3 linked regions of the Homo sapiens genome follow. The protein of the gene in region 1 purifies or fractionates together with the protein of each later gene. This does not show direct contact. Each region holds a gene or a part of one and is shown on either strand. Other genes may lie near its edges. The genes, in order: TCF7L2, TMPO and CUX1.

Region 1 (3,653 bases):
TGTACTTTATTTTGGTATAAATTTACATTCATTATTGTTTTCCTTTGGATGTGTAGCCCTCAATTAGTGTGATGGCTCCATTAAAGCAAGCGAGACTTCGCCTTTAATTATTACAACAAAACACCTAGTTTCAGCTTGGGGAGAGGGTCTCTATTGACATAAGCAGAGGTTATAAAATTTAATTAGCCATTCCTATCAGATTTATGGCATTCAAATTGTTCTGTGTTTCTTCCCTTTGATCCTTCCTGTACAATCCCCAAGATTTTTGTTCTGATCAAATGAGAATAAAGCTTACTGTGCAGAGAGAACTTTTCCCTTTTCTTCTTTTTCTTGTCCCCACCCCCACCCTTGTTTCAAGTCTCTTACTTTGTACCCCTTCTTTGTAGGCAAGGTCAACCAGTGTACCCAATCACGACAGGAGGATTCAGACACCCCTACCCCACAGCTCTGACCGTCAATGCTTCCATGTCCAGGTGAGTTCCAAGAACCGGGGCCTTCATCCAAGGCCATGTGTGACTTCTCAAGAAGTTCTCTAGATGGCCACCAAGCCACCCAGGGACCACAGCTACATGTAGTTCTATTAGTGTAAAGCCAATGTGGCATTAGGCTGTACTCCCAGAAAATCCTGAAAAATTGCCCTGAAATTCCAAGGTAAATGATGTCTTTCTGGGTAAAATTTTTGAGTCACTCAGTTGAACAATGTATTTTAATGAATTAAGAAGGTAAGGGAGAAACAGGACAGAAGCTTTTAAAAATGCCATTTCTCTGTTGTCCTGTCCTCAGCAAGAAAGGTAGCGGTGAAGGTAGTTTTATTATTATACCAAGAAGAGTTCGAAAAAAGATTACTGGTGTTCTCAAAGCTCAGACTCTGATTGCAAGTCAACAAGAAAGCATCCGCCTCCTCCCCTCGAAGGTAGCACTGTCCAATAGAAATATAGTGTGAGCCACAGAGGGAATTTTAAATTTCGTAGTAGCCGTGTTTTTAAAAAAGTTTTTGTTTTTTTTTTTTTAAAAAAAAGATAAAGTTATTTTTAATGACATGTTTTTATTCAATGCAATATAGCCAAAATATTATCATTTTAACATGCTATTCCTGGACAACAACTATTAATAAGATGTTATGTTCTTTTTTGTGCTGAGCTTTGGTACAAAATCTGATGTGTATCTTATACGCACAGCACTTCTCAGTTTAGACTGGCCACATTTCAAATATTCAATAGCCACACGTGGCTGGTGCATATCATAGTGGTCTGTGCAGCTCTAAGTCTTTGAAAGTTAAAAAAAAACATGTGTGTGTGTGCTGTACATTCATATATATTTATATTTCAGCGTAGAAACATATTTACAAGATACATTCCTATCCCCATGTTCTTCTTTTCCTCCCTCTGATTAATTCTGGCTAATTTTTCAGTGACTGCTAGTTTATTTACAAACTGGTTGGCAGCAGTATGTTTTAGTCGCTAATTGTTTCTAATGATAGTTTTATTTTCTGTTCATCTGATTTTCAGTCAAGTTAATTAAATCGGTGGAGGTTTAGACTTTGCTGATGGTCTGAAATCACCAACCCATTCTGATGATGGCACATAATGAAATTAGCATGCGTTACATGGCAGGGGTGCTGTCCCCAGCTTCTTTCCCCAGTCCCTGTGGCCAACATGGGAAGCCAAGACCAGAGAAGGGCCTGGAAAGACAGGTCAAGATGCTGCTTTTCCTACTTACAAAACAGTAACTTTAGCAGTGATAGAGAGTTACATTCATTAAGAAAAACAAACCGTGGCATATCTAGCATCGGTAACTATGCCGTGGATATCATAGTTGAAGAGATCCATTTTCTACCTGCGATATATCATCAAAATTTCAAAATCCATGCCAGTATTAGTTAGGTAGGAAAACGCTCGTGTGTTCTCTGGCCTAGAGAGAAGAGGAGGCGTAACACTTATTAAATAGTGTCATCACAGCCTCGCAAAGCATGGGAATGAGTAGGGGGTCTCCCAGGTGGAGAGCACCCAGGGACCACGGCTACATGTCATTCTATTAGTGTAGCAGCTTATACTCCACAGCTCATCTTCCCACCTTCCCAGCATTTGTATATTACACCTGGTTATTTTTCATGTTTGTTTATTTGGTGCGTTCTGGAGGTTAACAGTGGTAAAGTAATTGTAGGATAGGGATTGGGGTTAAGCTGATCGATTGAATTATCATTAGGAGGTTAGTCGATGAATTATAGGTGGGCATGGGGGTGGAGGAAAGGCAGGGAACGTCAGGAAGAAAGGTTAGGGCCTCAAGGTGCGGGGAGAGGCGGCCGACTCCCCAGGTAGGCCAAATGAAAGATAGCTAGTTAAAAAGCATATACAGCAAATTAAATACATTATTGTGATAATGGGGCGACAGAAGTATAGGTCTATTATACTTATGGCAGTTATAGCAAATGTAGGCAGCTTGCCCTGTTCCAGAACACCCTTTGATATTCATTCTATTCAGCAGTGGGGCCAGGACTTCTCAGAATTAAGTGATGGGTCATTATACTTTAAACACCATGGAGAAGCCTAGATTGGCAATTAAACAGCTCTTGCTGACACTCACTTGTGCCACCCTGTGACCCCCTTTAGATTGAGATGTTGGAGCTCCGGGCCCTCAGCCTGCTAAATTGGTGCAAGGCTCTTCTCCTGACGAGAGCCGGCTCTGAAATCTGCCGGCTTCAAAGGGAGCGAGATCATGTATAAACCATAATGTGGGTGCACCGTGGCTCACAAAAAATAAGGCAGGAAGAGATGAAATGTTACAAGTGCAAGGGGGAAAATGAGAGAATAATGACAAACCTAATGCAACTCAAAGCAGGATTGTTGCACAGGAAAATGCATCCTACTGCTTGTGCATAAAATCAAGGCCGGCAGATGACATCCGGTTAACAGAAACGTGTCAACAGTGAAGTAAAGTGAGAGTGAGTAAGAGAGAAGCCCCTGAGACAGCCAGAAACAAAAATTAGTTGTTCTTAACAAGTTAAGGTTCATCATTATATTCTGGCTTGGAGCCATGAAAGCAGACGGGGGTATATAATGAGCTGCTTAGAATTTTTAGGGTGTTTATTGCATTTCATGAAATAGTAGTCTGCAGAAAGGAATTTCTTAAGCGAAGGTATGTGTATACAGCCCACATCCATGTTCACACATGGTCTCTTTCTTTGCTGAACATTTTTCAGATATGGGAATATACGCGTAGGTATGGGAACTTAGAAATGTGCCTTCTTCATGGCTGCATTAGAAGTTTGTCTGCACCCCAAAATGTACTCAGATTGTGGTGCCTTCCCGTGGTATTTGGTGTATGTACACACACGTACACACACACACTCACACATGCAGTGTTTTTCTCTCTCCCCCTCCCTCTCCCTCTCACGTCTGTACACATATTCTCATTCTGCAGGAAGGGAACATATGTATTTGAGGAATGTCAGGCCTTCAAAATTCACAGTAAAAGCTGCCACCCACCACTTCACCCAAGGGCTTCCAAGAACACATGTTCTTAACTTCTGTTTCCTCTGAGGCCTTCGAGCAGTGGGAAGGAACAGGGTGTCACTTGGAGCCCAAGTGTCTCCCAAGGGGTTTTGCTTTTTTTGTTTTTCACATTATTTTGAGAGGAAGGGGATGAAGATGAAG
Region 2 (3,753 bases), on another chromosome or scaffold:
CCATTTATTGCAACGACAAAACTAGAGGTTAATTACTTTTTATTATTGAATTATATTGTAAAGTCTACATCTACAATTTAATCAGGAAGAAATGCTTTGCATTTACATCAAGGACACATTTATTCTAATGGAATAAAACAGACACACACAAAAGACCAAGTACATGTTTTTAAAAAATGACTACATGTTTCACCTGGTCCTATTTTTGCTATTTGGACCATACTTTTAAGTGAATTGATCTTACATACATGTTAAGTCTGATTTATCTCCCCACATTTTTAAACACTAAATGAAGCTTCTCACAATTTCTAATTATAAACAAAAGGCTGAAAACAGTATGGGAAACAAAGTTTCAAAACAAAGAAAAGTTGAGTAAAAGGTGCCCCCTCTATGGCTCATCTGAAAGAAACATTTTACTCAGAGAGGCAAACATTTCTGATCTAGGAGTAAGTTTCCCACTCACTTTGCAAGGACCCACTCATTCTGCAGAAAGACCTACAAGTCTTTCTGGTCTCAATTGCAAAGTACGTGAAAATGTGTATGAAAGATCTAAAAGCTAAATATTAGAATAAGGCTAATTGAAATCAAAATTGTGTGCTGGTCTAAATATACATCTTCGGCTTCTTCCTTTTTAGTAAGTATTTTTATTTCAGATGTATTTAAAAATAACTTACATTTTTAGTGTGCTTTATGGTCAATGACTGTAAAGTTGAAACTCAAATGAGTCAGTTTAAAATTTTTGTCTCATTTGATTCTATTGAAATTTTAATCACCTACTACTTTAATCAAGTTATTCATGAGGTAAGTTTCAGCTTAAAAAAAAAAATCATCCACAAAGATAACCATTTCAAGAGTACACAAAATCATAATGCCGGCCGGGTGCAGTGGATCACACCTGTAATCCCAGCACTTTGGGAAGCTGAGGTGGGCTGATCACTTGAGGTCAGGGGTTCGAGACCAGCCTGGCCAACATGGTGAAACCCCGTCTCTGCCGAGGCAGGAAAATTGCTTGAACCTGGGAGGCAGAGGTTGCATCGAGCCCAGATCGTGCCACTGCACTACAGTCTGGGTGACAAGAGTGAGACTCCATCTCATAAAAAATAAAAAAATAAAAAATAATCATAATGCCCACCTCTTAAGAGTATACAACTTTATTAACTACTGCTTATGATGTAATATAAAAGCAAGTACTTTTTGTACTTTTTTATTTTTTTTGAGATGGAGTCTTGCTCTGTCGCCAGGCTACAGTGCAGTGACGTAATCTCTGCTCACTGCAACCTCTGCCTCCTGGGTTCAAACGATTCTCCTGCCTCAGTCTCCCTAGTAGACAGGACTACAGGCGCACATCATCACGCCCAGCTAATTTTTTTGTATTTTTAGTAGAGACGGGGTTTCACCATGTTGGCCAGGATGGTCTTGATCTCTTGACCTCGTGATCCACCCGCCCTGGCCTCCCAAAGTGCTGGGATTACAGGCGTAAGCCACCGCGCCTGGCCCTTTTTGTACTTTCTAATCAAATTATGCTGGGAAATATAGGGCAAAAAAAGCTCGGCAAAATTTGTTTCTGGTAACAAGACAATGCAATAATGAATCCAAATGAAACATAAGACCAGTGTTTACAATTTCTAACTTCTAAACAAACATACACACACTTATCTAAAACATATTTTGGTAGCAAACTGGATGACTGAATAAATGTTTTGCTGTAAATAAAAAATACAAATTTCCAATTATAGCCTTATAGCTAGCTAAACAGCTTTTCAAAACATGTACAGCTAGCCAACAATTCTCTAAAATATGTATGTTACACTAAAAGATCTCTGCTAAAAATCTACTGTATGTAAATGGGTCTTACTGAAATAGGACTTTCATGATACTGTGTCTTAAAAAGTGAGTATGATAGGGCTACAACAACATTACTATTAATAAAGGTTACAGAAGAGATTATTGCTGTACTTTTCCTCATAAACACCATCAAACTTTGTTGCAGTTACAAAAAGTACAACCAAGTTACTTTTCCTCTTACTGAATTTCATTATGTTTCACATATTTGCAGTTTTTATTCAGCAGAGAATAATTCTTAAAATCTTTTCTGTAAGAATTCTAAGTATTTAAATGTGTAGCTTCACATTATACTACCATGTTTCACCCTTCGTTTCCCAAATACACAAAAAACATATACATTTTTTCAAAAATGAAATAAGATGCCCACATTAAAAAAATAAAGCCTACAAAAAGTTCCAGAGCTAAAAAAGATTATTCATATGGCACAAAGTGATCTCCTACTAGTCCAAAGTTCAAAAACATTTTAATGAAGTCCATTTATATATATTTTGTTTGCTTTTCAATGAAATACTACATTTATTGAGGCGAAATCACATTATTTTTAGTTCTTGGAGTCAACAAGTGTACACAAATGTTTTTCAACAGTTATTGAAAATAGGAGACCAAGTTGAACGTGCCAAAGAGATACCATTCAGTTGGATTTTCTAGGGTCAACATGAAGAAAATTAGAGAAGGGATTTACTTGGTTGGTTTCCATAGCTTGATAGACCAAAAACAAAAAAACTGCCACAACAACAAACAGCAAAATTTTTATCCATACGGGAATGGAGCGTCCCTTTTTTGTCTTTTCTGACTTGACATCTGCCAAGGGAACATACTTAGGAACATATTTAGATGAAAAAGACTCCTCCATCCTGAAATCACTGAGTTCTAATGGCCGGCCTGCAGCCCCTTTGATTGGTCTGCGGCAACTAGCACTGTTGGGAGTGAAAGGAGGAAAAGAAAAATAATTTTAGATAAAGGCATGATTTAGAGAAATAACATAAAATGTCATTGCCACTCCTAATTCCAAGCACATTCCCTGAGGTAACAGTAGAAAATTGATACATATAAAGCAGTGAGGTCAGTCAACCTATTTAAAACTTCTACATATTTTCTATTTTAAAAGTTAGATGGGCTGGGCATGGTGGCTCGCGCCTGCAATCCCAGCACTTTGGGAGGCCAAGGCGGGCAGATCACCTGAGGTCAGGAGTTCAAGACTAGCCTGGCCAACATGGTGAAACTCTGTCTCTACAAAAATACAAAAATTAGCCGGGCATGATGGTGGGTGCCTGTAATCCCAGCTACTCAGGAGGCTGAGGCAGGAGAATCGCTTGAACCCAGGAGGTGGAGGTTGTAGTGAGCCGAGATCACGCCACTGTACTCCAGCCTGGGCAACAGAGCAAAACTCCGTCTCAAAAAAAAAAAAAAAGTTCGATGCATCCTTTATTAGAAAAGAATATTCAGAACACTGATAAATAGTCACTAAACCTGCCTTCTTAAAGGCTCTTCAAAGCTCATGTTTAGGAGTAAAGAGGAAAAACAAAACAGTTTTGGCTGTGTTTCTTTCAGTTAAAAATTAAGATACATAAACACAGCCTTTTCAATTAGAAAAGAGAAACTTAGGGGGGAAAAACTATTTCTCACTAGATTTTCGTTTAGATTTTAACATATGAATTTAAGTAGTAAGTAAGTGATTTATTTAAAATCCTCCATTTACCAATCGCAATTTTGAAACTCATTCAACTTTCAAGAATATTTACTGGTGGGCTTAGGGGAATTAAACTGCTCCCAAAAGAACAGTTCGTTCACTTATTTATTTAAAAGTCGGTGGGTAGACAGAGTCTCATTATGTTGCCCAGACTGGTCTCGAACTCCTGGGCTTAAGCAATCCACCTGCCTTAGTCTCTTGAGTAGCTGGGACTACAG
Region 3 (3,653 bases), on another chromosome or scaffold:
TTTTATTATAATTGTCAAAGACAGAAATTTGTCTGTCTTGTCCTTTTGTTTTGTCTGAAGCCCCGCGTTATCGCTGCAGAGAGAGAGTTTTGGTTTCCACCGAAATTTCCCTGCCTCCGATTGTTTAAACCAGACCCTTAATCTTATTTTAACATATTTAAAATGTTCACAAAACCCGGAAGAATTGTTTTGTGTAAGTAGCAAGCGAGTGTAGCTTAAACACTCAAGCAATTCTGGTATCTAATTGGAAACAGGTGGAATTCTTGGAATCCCATGTTTGAGTCTTTTTATAGCAAAGCCCAGGGACACTTTTCACTTATAGCCATTCGTTTTGTCGAAGCTATTTGAAGAGGGGCCCCACAGCCTCTCCTTATGTCCCACTGTTGCTTACCTGGACAAAGCAGTCGTGCTGGGCGCTTTAGGAACTGGATACCTGTGAATGCCTGGATGCCGAGAGAAGTGTGTGTGTGTGCCGATAATGGAGTGAAAAAGGAATCTAATGGTATAGTTAGACAAGCAATTTAATATCTGCATTGTTATATGACTTTAGAGCAAAGAATTTGTGAATTCATTTGTGATTTCTGACTTGATGAACCTTGACTGACCAGAGCATGTAGGTACATTTTATTATACCCCAATAATGATATAGAATTCAGAGAGAAGATACTCCCCCCCGCCCCCAAAAAAATTCTACATTTAGAGAATATAAGCTCCACCAGCAACCATAAAAGTATTAACTTGGTGAGGGGGATATTTTCTTTCTTTTTTTTTTTTTTTGAGACAGAGTCTCGCTCTTTCGCCCAGGCCGGAGTGCAGAGGCACTATCTCAGCTCACTGCAAACTCCGCCTCCCGGGTTCACACCATTCTCCTGCCTCAGCCTCCCGAGTAGCTGGGACTACAGGCGCTGGCCACCAGGCCTGGCTAATTTTTTGTATTTTTAGTAGAGACGGGGTTTCACCGTGTTAGCCCGGATGGTCTCGATCTCCTCACTTAGTGATCCGCCCGCCTTGGCCTCCCGAAGTGCTGGGATTACAGGCGTGAGCCACCGTGCCCGGCCCCTATTTTCTTTTCTTTTCTTTTTTTCTTTTTTCTTTTTTTTTTTTTTTTTTTTTTTTTTGAGACGTGGTTCTGTCGCCCAGGCTGGAGTGCAGTGGTGCGATCTCGGCTCACTGCAAGCTCCGCCTCCAGGGTTCAGGCCATTCTCCTTCCTTAGTCTCCCGAGTAGCTGGGACGATAGGCGCCCGCCACCATGCCTGGCTAGTTTTTTTGTTTTTTTGTTTTTTTTTTTTTTTGAGATGTAGTCTGGTTCTGTGGCCCAGGCTGGAGTGCAGTGGCGCGATCTCGGCTCACTGCAAGCTGAGCCTCCCGGGTTCACGCCATTCTCCTGCCTCAGCCTCCGGAGTAGCTGGGACTACAGGCGCCCGCCACCACGCCCGGCTAATTTTTTCTATTTTTAGTTGAGACGAGGTTTCACTGTGTTAGCCAGGATGGTCTCGATCTCCTGACCTCGTGATCTGCCCGCCTCGGCCTCCCAAAGTGCTGGGATTACAGGCGTGAGCCACCGTGCCCGGCCGATGTTTTCTTAAATATTAATGGCAGGGCCCTCTGGATTGACTGTGTTATTTGACCCATTCCAGTTTTCAAGGCGTGGTCTTGAAAAGCTGTCGATCACCCTGGTTTTGGGATGTGTTTCAGAACCAAGTTTCGATGGTGTGTCAGTGTTGGATTTTCCTGCTGAGGACAGCTAAGGTTTGGTATGGAGCAGTTTTGGATTTGCTGAGCTGTAATCAGTCCAGCTTCTCTGCTGTCTTCTGAGAAGGTTGATGGAGGAGAGTGGTCTTTGGCGGGGATGGAGGTTTCCCTGCAGGAAATGAACCAGGACTGAGGGGAACCTGTGCCGTTCCCCTCATTTGTCCTGCGCCTGAAACAGCTTTGAAGCACCTGGCTTGTGACTTAAAAGATTTTTAAAAAGCATTTGTGCTGCCCTATTCGGGTATTACACAGTGAGGGTGAACCATTCTTTTCGAAAGACGTCTAAGGCCGGGCACGGTGGCTCATGCCTGTAATCCCAGCACTTTGGGAGGCCAAGGCAGGCAGATCACTTGAGGTCAGAAGTTCGAGACCAGCCTGGCCAACATGGCAAAACCTCATCTCTACTAAAAATACAAAAATTAGCCTGGCGTGGTGGCGCATATCCATAATCCCAGATACTCGGCAGGCTGAGGCATGAGAATTGCTTGAGCCCAGGAGGTGGAGGTTGCAGTGAGCTGAGATCGTGTGACTGCTCTGCATGCAGCCTGGGTGACAGAGCGAGACTCTGTCTCAGAAAAAAAAAAAAAAAAGACATCTAATTTGTTGTAAAACCTGTCAAGAACCTTCCCTTTAAAAAGCTAATGCCTCTCTAATAAAAATAATTTTAATTTTGTTGTAATTAAATTCAGAGAGGATGATGTTAGTGCACAAAATAAAGATTGTCAATTTCTTTATTTTAATCCAACGGCATTTCCTAACTGCAGGAGGCCCAGGACCGTTGGCAGAAATTTTGTGTTGATTAGAGCCTCGGGCCATGGGAAGTGCAGGTACTGTGGCCACAAAGTTCGTCGCCCAATCCCTGGCTGACCCCACAAGCAGGACTGGTACAGATCCCACCCTCAGGGGTCTTCCTACACAGAGAAACATAATCACACAGGTGACTGGAACGGAGCCAAGGATGGTGGTGTTCCTCCTAGGGATTTACTAACACTGCCAGCAACTCAAGAACTAGCCAGCCGGGAGTTTCCTAGTAAGTGAAACTGACTTGGTTCTGCTTCCTTTCATGAAAACCTTTGTGAAAATGAGCCCAATAAGGGGTCCGAACCTTTATAAAGCACACGACCCCCCAGAGTGGACCGGGCCCTGGCCGACTCCATCAGCCGAAGCTTGAGATCTTGGATGGTCTGGATGGTCTTGACCGTGTGTGATTGATGCAGTTAACAAAGCAGGAAATTAACAGAGCTTACTCTGAGACACCAGGGAAGTGGCTTGTTCTTTCTTGGGGTTACTTTGAGTGGATGCTGGCACACTGCTTGTTTTCTTATAGATACCTTTCTATTGGGCTGTGTTTATTCAATAAGGAAATGCAGTTAACATTTTTTTAACAAGTAAACCATGGGTTATGAGGTGTTCCGAGTTTGGTTAAGGGAAAAACAAATTGACAAATTAGCTCTTTCTTAAGTGAGTATTGCGAAACAGTGAGAAATAGAATGCCTGTCGTACCGTCATTAAAAATTTATCTGGGTGTTGACAGCTTTTTGTTAAATGTAAGACATTCAGATCCTGTCCACCCAGCATATGAAAAAACCAAACCAAACCAAACCGAAAAACAAAATGCAACACAAAAGCTTCTTTCCATTTCCCCCCAAAAGCAAGACAATTTTTCTTAAACTGGGGCTTTCTCCCTAATGAATTGCCATGATTTTGTTTTCTCTAACATAGTTTAATATCTTTAAGACAGAACGAATATCAACTCTTTTTATTTTATTTTTTGAGACGGAGTCTCACTCTGTCGCCCAGCCTGGAGTGCAGTGGCACAAACTCCGCTCACCGCAACCTCCACCTCCCAGGTTCAAGTGATTCTCGTGCCTCAGCCCCCCCGAGTAGCTGTGATTACAGG

The links.
Region 2: the proteins of TCF7L2 (region 1) and TMPO purify together in Homo sapiens (affinity purification with mass spectrometry; one large-scale study listed by BioGRID and IntAct). This does not show direct contact.
Region 3: the proteins of TCF7L2 (region 1) and CUX1 purify together in Homo sapiens (affinity purification with mass spectrometry, with the first as the bait; 2 studies listed by BioGRID). This does not show direct contact.

The regions. Positions count from the first base shown.
Region 1 is NC_000010.11:113,145,625-113,149,277, forward strand, and holds part of TCF7L2 (transcription factor 7-like 2), read left to right. Parts: intron 1-386; coding exon 387-473; intron 474-3,653. UniProt on the Homo sapiens protein: Participates in the Wnt signaling pathway and modulates MYC expression by binding to its promoter in a sequence-specific manner. Acts as a repressor in the absence of CTNNB1, and as activator in its presence.
Region 2 is NC_000012.12:98,546,582-98,550,334, reverse strand, and holds part of TMPO (thymopoietin), read right to left. Parts: intron 2,763-3,753; coding exon 2,477-2,762; 3' UTR 1-2,476. UniProt on the Homo sapiens protein: May help direct the assembly of the nuclear lamina and thereby help maintain the structural organization of the nuclear envelope. Possible receptor for attachment of lamin filaments to the inner nuclear membrane.
Region 3 is NC_000007.14:101,820,580-101,824,232, forward strand, and holds part of CUX1 (Homeobox protein cut-like 1), read left to right. Parts: intron 1-3,653. UniProt on the Homo sapiens protein: May be involved in intra-Golgi retrograde transport.